2 linked regions of the Homo sapiens genome follow. The protein of the gene in region 1 purifies or fractionates together with the protein of each later gene. This does not show direct contact. Each region holds a gene or a part of one and is shown on either strand. Other genes may lie near its edges.

Region 1 (5,023 bases):
ACTTATAAGTGGGGGCTAAATATTGAGTACGCATGGACAGAAAGATGGGAACAACAGACACTACAGAGTACTGGAGCAGGGAGGGGCACAGGTTGAAAAGCTACCTATTGAGTACCGTGCTCCCTACCTGGGCGCAATACTCCCATGTAACAAATCTGCATATGAAGGCCTGGTGCGGTGGTTCATGCCTGTAATCCCAGTACTTTGGGAGGTTGAGGCAGGTGGATCACCTGAGGTAAGAAGTTCAAGACAAGCCTGGCCAACATGGTGAAGCCCCATCTCTATTAAAAATACAAAAATTAGCTGGGTGTGGTGGTGCCTGCCTGTAATCCCAGCTACTTGGGAGGCTGAGGCATAAGAATCACTTGAATATGGGAGGTGGAGGCTGCAGTGAGCTGAGATCATGCCACTGCACTCCAGCCTGGGCGGGCAGAATGAGACTCTATCTCAAACAAACAAAAACAAAACAAAAACAAGTCTGCACATGTACCCCCGTGTCTAAAATAAAAGATGGAATTTAAAAGTAGAAAAAAAGACTGGCCACATGTTGGTAACTGTTGAAGCTAAATGATAGTATATATAGGTTTACCATACTATTCTCTGTATGTCTATATATATTTGAAATTTTCCACAATAAAAGCAAATTTTAAGGAAAAAATTACATTAAAATTTAGGTACCAATTGCTAGAATAAGGAATTCCATAATTTTACTGTAAATACTGTATAAAAATCAACCTTATTTGCCTGTACTTTACTGAGGGACAGCATTCTTCAATAGTAACTGGATACATAGGCTTAGAGTCTGACTGGTAACTAAATTTAGGGGAAAAGTGTAAATGCCATAAAGAAAGCATTCTTCTCAGCTTGTGCTACCACAAATGAGCATACTCCACCATGATGAAAGAAACATAAATTAGTAGATGCAGTTAATCAAAGAAGAATGCAAATCTGTAATAGACAAGGTGGAAGCCATGATGTCATCCTGGGACCAGGCAGAGCTAGAGAACACAGACTGTACCATGGAGTAACTTGGAGTTGCAGAGGTGACTGGTAGCACCCAACAGTAATTATTATTAATTACAGTGTCAGATGAACTAAACTCCTAGTTATCTTAACTGCATGTTAATGGATAGCACAATAATGTCAATAAGGAACTGGTGAGGCCTGGAGGAGCAGTTGTATAGGCTAAAAGGCAGGAAAATGAGGCAGAAACTCTTTATGGTGTTGTCACGGAGGGCAGGGGCTGGACAGTTAGGAAGGCCCTAATTATTAGCTCAGAGAAACCGGGGAAGAAAATCACCCTGAGTGAAGACACTGTGAGCATGTTGGGACACTCAAAATACTGGCTTTGCTGTCCATTACTCTAGAGGCTCTTTTCTGTGACTTGAGCAGCAAAAACACTCAAAGCTTGGGCTATGTGCTGGACAATGTCATTGTGAAAGTCTGGATGGCCAGATAAGAAGTTTTGTTTGCCAAAGGCAAAAGGACTGAAGTGGCATTAAAAGATACTTTGTATCATACTGATAATTTAACTTTGGCAATTTTACAATCTCAATTATTTATAATTGTTTATGTACTGTTCCATTTGCTTGGAAATGGATATAAAGACCAGAACCAACATGCATAATTTCATCACAAGCAGCTGCAGCACTGGCTCTTCAGTGGGCCTACCTCATAGCTTCATGGCCTGGTGGGGATGGGGGTGGCTATACAGGGCTACCGATTTTTGGTGTTGTAGCTACTATGTCTTTAAAAATCAATGCTTTCATTTTGATAGCGACAGAGAGTTTTGAGACAGTATATTCAAAGATGTAGGGATCTTTTCCTCTGGATTTTCATAACTGATATATTAGCATAATCTAGTTATGCAATGTGCTTAATTCAAAATTCACTACCTGTAAGCAGTAAAGATAATGGAACTGTGATAAGAAAACCCATAGATGATGATGACGATGAAGACTTTATCATCGTTCTTGAAGACGGAATAATGCTGTTCAGCACATAGGCAGCTTCCTGGGGCAGTGGGTAGGGTGCTCAGTGCTCAAGAGATCATTAAGCCCACTCTGCTCTGGGATCAGTCCAAAGTGACATGAAAGAACTGTGAGAGCTGTCAGCCCAATTCTGGTTTCACAGAAGAAGAAAATGACGTCCAGAGTGAGGAACTGACTTACTTGACTGAGATCCCCCATTTGCTGATTGATTATGAATTTAAAGCCATATTTCACAATTCCCAAACCAATGGTCTCCTTTCATTATACCACTCTTCTTCTTTTTTTTTTTTTTTTTGAGATGGAGTCTCGCTCTGTCACCCAGGCTGGAGTGGAGTGGCGCGATCTCAGCTCACTGCAAGTTCCGCCTCCTGGGTTCACACCATTCTCCTGCCTCAGCCTCCCGAGTAGCTGGGACTACAGGCACCCACCACCATGCCCGGCTAATTTTTTTGTATTTTGAGTAGAGATGGGGTTTCACCGTGTTAGCCAGGATGGTCTCGATCTCTTGACCTCATGATCCACCCACCTCGGCCTCCCAAAGTGCTGGGATACCACTCTTCTTGCATATGAGAATGATGATGCATTACACACACACACACACACACACACACACGCGCGCGCGCACACACACACACACACACACACACACACACCCTCCTCATGGAATAGAATCTAAGCTGCATCTGGCCGGTATCTACCAAATAGGGACCAGCTGACTTGGCCAGAGAAAGCCACCGGACTGGAGGAGTAATGGACACATGAGTGTGTGTGCTTGTGTGCATGTGTGTTCGTGTGTGTGTGTGTAAGTTCTATTGGGGTTACAGTGCTGAAAACACTGTAGAGCCTCTTCTCTGTTTCTTGAGCAGCAAAAACACATAAAGCTTAGGCCACGTGCTGGACAGTGTTAAAATTTATGGACTTGACTTTTCTAGAGATACTCTTCATAAAGGCTCAGTTTGTTGGAATCAATGGGTTGTGGCACTTTAAAGTGTGGTTTAAACTAGGAGACAGAACTTGGGTCTTAGAGTCTGAAATCATGGTTTCTTCAACTTAAAGTGCGACACTGTTTGAACAAATGACTTAACCTCTCAGTCTCAGTCTTCTCACCTTTAATCTGAGAGAACAATGCCTGCCATATCTTTGTCATAAGGTTTTTCTGAGGGTAAAATGTGTACGAAAGTACTTTATAAGATGTAAAGTACATATAAATGCATGGTATTACTATTTCTGCTATTATTATATAAGGAAGTTCATGCAGAATTAATACCAAGGCATGCTGGCTCTTAATAAAAGTGTGAAGTAGGCCAAGTGGTCTGTGGCCCACTGTCACCTACCCCGCTTCCTGCTGTCCTGGGTCCTCCAGCTCCCAACTGGAAGAGCTACACGGAAGGTGATGGAGGAAGCCTTTCTGGACCCCACCCAATGACAGCCCCAGGGTAGGCTGCCTGCCCATCCGGATTACTCTATTCTCACCTGTGAAAGGTTAGCTCCTCAACTGTGGCTGCTGTATCTTTCTCTCCTTCACAAGCAGGGTAGGTAACAGGCAACTAGACTAGGACAGAGGGAACAGTGATCTCTGAGCAGTAAGGGATAGTAGGAAAAAAAGAGAAGTTACACGAGAATGTGCTTTGATCTATACAAAGAAAGACAAGAGCAGGAGCAGGGTGGCACCCTGTATTCACATCACTCTGCTGAGATGGGCACGGTGCAGAGAATGCGTAACCATAAGCATTAGACTTTACTGTGACACTCCAAGAAAATGGAACCAAATGGGTTTTGGCTTAGAATTCTTTCTGACAGCTTCATGTCCATTAAAAATACACTAAATGTCAGGGAAAATTTACCACAGCATGTTGTTTTGCCAAGAGGAAAATTTGTTAAATCAGGACGAACATTTTAAAATTCTCCACAAAATCATTTCAGTGACTTATTTTCCATTTATTTCTATGTAGAACACTACACACTTTGGGAGAAATCACTTATATAAACACACACACACACACACACACACACACACACTGTTCTTTTTCTTTTTTCTTTTTAGTTTTGTATCTTGAGAAATAGTCAGTGTGGTTCTCTATTTTATTCTTTAAAAAAATCACAGAACTATTGCCACAATATCAAGAAGTCATCATGTTAGAGTGGCTACTATTTATTTTGATTTTTTTCACCAAATGATGCTTGATCAGGATATTATCCTAACTTTAAAGAGAGAAGTGGATTGAAGAGGAAAAAATTGGGATTTACCACCATGTACTACACCATGCTTGGCATCCTATTTTATTTTATTCCATCCTGAGAACAATTCTGCAGATGGAGTATTTCTATATGCATTTTACTGAAAAGGCTCAGACAAATCAGGTAATTCTGCTAGGACCACGAAGCTGACAAGGGACAGAAATGGGATTCTAATTCAGAAGATGCTTTCCCCACTAGTCAGTGGTGAAAAGGAAGCAAACAAATAAATCATCTGGATTTTTAAAAAGTTTGTTATTTGCTGGAGGTGAGAAAAGAGGAGTGAGTGGGAGAAAAGATGAATCAAGATTAGCTACAGGTTGATAACTGGAAGCTGGGTGATGGATTTCACTGTACAATTCTGCTGCTTTTGTAGGTTTGAAAATTTCCAAAATCAAAAACAAAAGAGGCAATGTCAATGGACATTGATAACATAGAAAATATTACATATAAATAATCTTTTGTTGTTTATTGAAAGATGATAAAGTTTTACAAAAAGGAGAAAAAACCTAATCTTCAATTCCTAGAGATGTTTGTCAAAAAGTAACTGGGCTGCCCCAGTTACTTTTGTATGTATGCATGTATTTGTATGTATGACATGCAGCTTAACCTCTGCTTCTCAGAGTAGAAAACATTTCACCACCTAGAGTGTACCTTGGACAAGGGGCTGATTCAGGAATTCTTTTTTTTTTTTTTGAGACGGAGTCTCACTCTTGTCACCCAGGCTAGAGTGCAGCAGAGCGATCTCGGCTCACTGCAACCTCCACCTCTAGGGTTCAAGCGATTCTCCTGCCTCA
Region 2 (5,023 bases), about 180 Mb from region 1:
GAGACCTCCTCTCTACTAAAATGTGTAAGAATTAGCCGGGCATGGTGGTATGCACCTGTAGTCCTAGCTACTCAGGGGGCCGAGGCAGGAGGATCTCTTGAGTCCAGGAGGTCAAGGCTGCAATGAACCCTAATTGAATTACTGCATTCCAGCCCAGGTGACAGAGCAAGACTTTGTCTCAAAGAAAGAGAAAATTTCAAGATAAAGATGTAATACTTCTCTGATTTCCAAATCAGAAATCTATTACAGCATTTATTATACTGTATTAGAATGATCTGTAAGCATCCCCATCTCCTCACCTTCAGAACAGGTTATGCCTAAATATACAAGCCTTTCAATAAATGCTTACTGAATGAACACACTGTAAAAGCCTCACCCCAAAATCAAATACTTCTTTTACCTTTGGCATCATATCTTCCATGAATTTCTGCCCTCCAAACCCCGGTTCCACTGTCATAACCAAGGCCATATCTATCTGATTAGCCCATGGTGCCAAATACTCAACTGAGGTTCCTGGTTTGATGGCAAGGCCAACCTGTAACAGACACAAATATGCTATATCACATTTACAATTACTTCTGTATTATATTATTGTGGCATAGCAGGCCCAGTAGAAATATCTGTTCTTATTTTTTAAAAGTTAACAAGACTATTAAATGTAAGTATTTTCAACAAGCAGTAGCTTTCAGAAAACTTTAGTGGAATACATAAATGCTATGTGACAAAGAAGTTAAATCCTGGCATCATAGCTGAAGAACAGCTGCTTAAGTAAGGTATTCTTTACCTGCAATGGGCCCTGACTGTGCCACTGCACTTCAGCCTGGGTGACAGAGCAAGACTGTATCAAAAAAAGAGAAAATTTCCTGTTTCCCGCAAATCTTCCCAACTGAGAGTGAATGTTACAAAACACTCTCATCACGATTTCTTACCTTCATCCCATTCTCCCGAATGTCTTTAATCAAAGCCCCTGGGTTCTCAGTAGCCTCGAGATGAAAGGTGTACTGATTGGCTCCTGCTACAGCCATTGGCTTTACCCACTGTTCTGGCTTGGACACCATCATGTGCATGTCTAGAAAGAAAAGACACTTCAAAATATTACTGAAAAATACCTGGCTCATGTTATTGGAAGCCAACCTGTATGTAGTTTTTGCCACTTCTGATAAGAACTCTTTGGCCATCACACAAATCATTATTTAAATAGTTCTAATTCAGTATAGGTAGTTTCCTCTTATTTTGAAGACAAGGATTTATTTAAATTCATTTACAAAAAACACTATTTTCCCACAAAAAGCATACAGTGCTGTATATAAAAAGTTAACATCTAAAAATCAGGAAATCTAGGTCCAGGTCCAGGAAATGCCACTCTAAAAAACTTAAAGAATAAGTCATACTATCCATGCAAACTAGTTTCCTCTAGGAAAAATTAAGTGATCCTTTTCATTTATTCTTTCAATTTATCGAGCTATTGCTGCATCATTAATTATTCTAGGTCCTAGGGTTAGAGCAAAAACATGAAACTCTCCTGTCATAGGGATTACATTCTTAATGCGAGAGTCAAACAATAAACAAAATAAGTAAGTAAAATGCACACTAGGTTGGCAGTTAATATGGCTGGTGTGCCTGGGGAAGGAGATACACCAGTCAGAGGTCAGGGAAGCATGTGGTGAGGAGAAACCCTTCAGCATTCTGCAGGCCACTGGGAAAAACCACCACAGTGAAGTGACAAGATACTATCGACTGAGGAAGCTACGATAGCAATAACCCAGGTGAAAAATGATGGCAGCAATTCGGGATGGATATGTTCTTAAATAAGAGCAAAGAGAGCTGAGGATAGATGAGATGTGGAGGATAAGAGGATCCTCCATGGATAGATAGATGAGAGGAAAATAAAGATGGCATCAAGGATTTTGACCTTATCAACTAGAAGAACGGAACTGCCATTAATTGAGAGGCAAGACTGCAAGAACAAATTTAGGGGGAAGGACATGTTGACTGCAAGAAACCTGATATTCATCCTAATTCTAAAGCTTGATTCATATAAACACATAAGGTGAAAATGGGCATGGCCTTCTTAAAGATCTTGATTTAAAACATAATAGCATTTCATAAGAAGGAGAGGGCAGCTTAAAACAAGCTAAACCAAGAAATAACACTGTGAAGAATCCTGTGTTTGATAGATGGTAGTGAGGAGAGGTTTTAAGTTTTTTATTTTGCTAGAGGAAGCACATTTCTGAAACAGCCAAGCTATATTTAAGAAAAAAATTCTAACATTTCAGAACAATTATGAAATACAATAAAGCCTTGAAAAAAAAAAGTCAGAAAAAGAAAGTATAAAGCTTGACTAATAAAGTCAAGATTAACGTTTGTATTTCTAATCCAGCAAAAGTAATTGTATGAGAACTTTTTTTTTTTTAATAGAGATGAGTTCTCACTGTTTCCCAGGCTGGTCTCGAACTTCTGGCCACAAGTGATCCTCTGACGCTGGCTTCCCGAAGTGCAGGGATTATAGGTATGGGCCACCACACCCGGCCTAAATTAGAACATATTTTAATAGGTAAAACTTTATTCTTAAAAAAATGTATTAAATCTGGTGTTTCTTATTCTTTGCATCATAAACAAGGAAAATTCAAGCCGGTTTAAAATACCTACTCCAGGCCGGGCGCGGTGGCTCACGCCTGTAACCCCAGCACTTTGGGAGGCCAAGGCGGGTGGATCACGAGGTCAGGAGATCGAGACCATCCTGGCTAACACGGTGAAACCCCATCTCTACTAAAAATACAAAAAAATTAGCTGGGCGTGGTGGCGGGCGCCTGTAATCCCAGCTACTCGAGAGGCTGAGGCAGAACAGCGTGAATCCAGGAGGCGGAGCTTGCAGTCAGCCGAGATCGCTCCACTGCACTCCAGCCTGGGCGACAGAGCGAGACTCCATCTCAAAAAAAAAACAAAAAACAAAAAAACCTACTCTATTCATTCCTTAAGTTACCAGACTGCTAGCTATGTCATCCTTACTCAACCTCTAGCATCCAGTAACCACTAGCAACCCTCAATGGAGAAGTTCTATGGTGTTCAGGGAGTCAATGGTTCAGCAAATCTGTGCATAGTTAACATTAGATCAGCAATTCCCAATCATTCTATCATCTATTATAATCATAATCTATTATTCATAAACTTGGTCAACAATATGCTGATTAAAAAGAATCTAAGGTCTATTAAATTCTAAGTTACATTAAAAAAACACTATATATGGCTAGGTGCGGTGGCTCAAGCCTGTAATCCTGGCACTTTGGGAGGCCAAGGCAAGTGGATTGCTTGAGCCCAGGAGTTTACACTCTTAAAAATTATTAAAGACCCCAAGAAACTTCTGTTGATATGGATTATATTTATAGATATTTAATGTATGAGAAATTCAAACTAAGACATTTTAAAGCATGTAATTTTTGGCGGGTTTGGTGGCTCACACCTATAATCTTAGGAGGCTGAGGAGGGAGGATGGCTTGAGCCCAGTTTGAGACCATCCTGGGCAACATAGTAAGACTCCTTCTCAACAACAACAGAATAATTAGCTAGGCATGGTAGTGTGCCCCTGCAGTCCCAGCTACTGGAGGGGAGAGGTGAGGTGGGAGGACTGCTGGAGCCCATCAAGACTGAGGCTTCAGTGAGGTATGAAGGCCACCACTGCACTCTAGCCTGGGTGACAGAGCAAGACTGTCTCAAAAAAAAAAAAAAAAAGGATAACTCTATTACCTATTAATTAAGAGTGGTATTATTTGTTTTACATTTTTGCAAGTTTTCAGTGTCTGGCTTAACAGAAGACACCTATATTCTCACATCTGTTCTGTATCTAATCTGTTGTAATACAGATGTTCTGTAACTTACAATGGGGTTACATCCCAATTAACTCAATCTAAATTGAAAATACTGTTATCTCTAACTGCATTTAATATACCTAACACACCAAACATCATAGCTTAGCCTAGCCTATCTTAAATGTGCTGGGTGGTAATTTTATAAAGGTTAGCTGCAGTGTGCACTCTGTAAACCCTATCAATGAGCTTTTCATTCTTTGTTACATTAAAACCCATTGTTTGTCTTGTATTTTGAATGGGTCTTTTAAGTACTGATTTACTGAGTTACACACATCTTACAAATAGTGACAGATTTCATTCCATAGTACCCCAAAATCACATTTGGTAAAATAACTACAGATCTCATCAGAAAAGCTTGTTAACTGTTGGGACGCTATCAAACCCAGAGTGGTAAGATACACAAGTTTTTTAAAATTCTAATTTTGGGAACAAAAACTGACAAGGTATCTTTCCTTGAAGAGACAGCCTCATTTAGTTAATATTTTTTAAATGTCATTAAAATAGCCAGGTCTGAAAAACCATAGTTGATCTGTCAGTTGTTCTTTCAAACAAACATAGTGTTCTGGAGGAAAGCAGCTAGTTCAGATCACACCTCTATGGTGCAAGTGGTTTTCCTTGAGAAAACCATTATGTTCCAGTATGCAGCAATGCAGCACAAGCACTTTATATGCACTTCCTACTTTGCCACACAAAATATTAAAAAGGCATGTATTCAGGGACCAAGATTTATTAATTTCTACTGCTTCATCAAGGATATTTATTGCAAATGCATGATGATGAAGAATAACTCCTGATACAGTCCCTGCCTTGAGTTGGTTAAGGCACCAGCAAACTAACTCATCAATGTTTTTGTACCATCAGTAGAAATAATGGCAAATAATTTCTTAGGATTATGAAAATAGTTTTGATATACTCTCATGGATGACCCGAAAGGGTCTTAAGGATTTGTGTGGGTCCTTATACAACATACTTGAGGATCACTGATTTAGACAATAACAGGAACAGACTTTTCCCATCACTGTATTTCTTAGACATTTATTTCTACTCAATATGAAAACTGAACAGTTAAGAATGTTAGCGTTACATATACAACACAACATGTAATCTAGGTCCTAGAATACATTCATGTATCAATTATCCAACAACCAAAATCCAAG

Evidence for each region. The genes of interacting proteins can lie anywhere in the genome.
Region 2: the proteins of RBKS (region 1) and RPE fractionate together in Homo sapiens (co-fractionation; one large-scale study listed by BioGRID). This does not show direct contact.

Annotation. Positions count from the first base shown.
Region 1 is NC_000002.12:27,837,752-27,842,774, forward strand, and holds part of RBKS (ribokinase), read right to left. Parts: intron 1-5,023. UniProt on the Homo sapiens protein: Catalyzes the phosphorylation of ribose at O-5 in a reaction requiring ATP and magnesium. The resulting D-ribose-5-phosphate can then be used either for sythesis of nucleotides, histidine, and tryptophan, or as a component of the pentose phosphate pathway.
Region 2 is NC_000002.12:210,012,019-210,017,041, reverse strand, and holds part of RPE (ribulose-phosphate 3-epimerase), read right to left. Parts: intron 1,070-5,023; coding exon 930-1,069; intron 839-929; coding exon of another isoform or gene 785-838; intron 536-784; coding exon 401-535; intron 1-400. UniProt on the Homo sapiens protein: Catalyzes the reversible epimerization of D-ribulose 5-phosphate to D-xylulose 5-phosphate.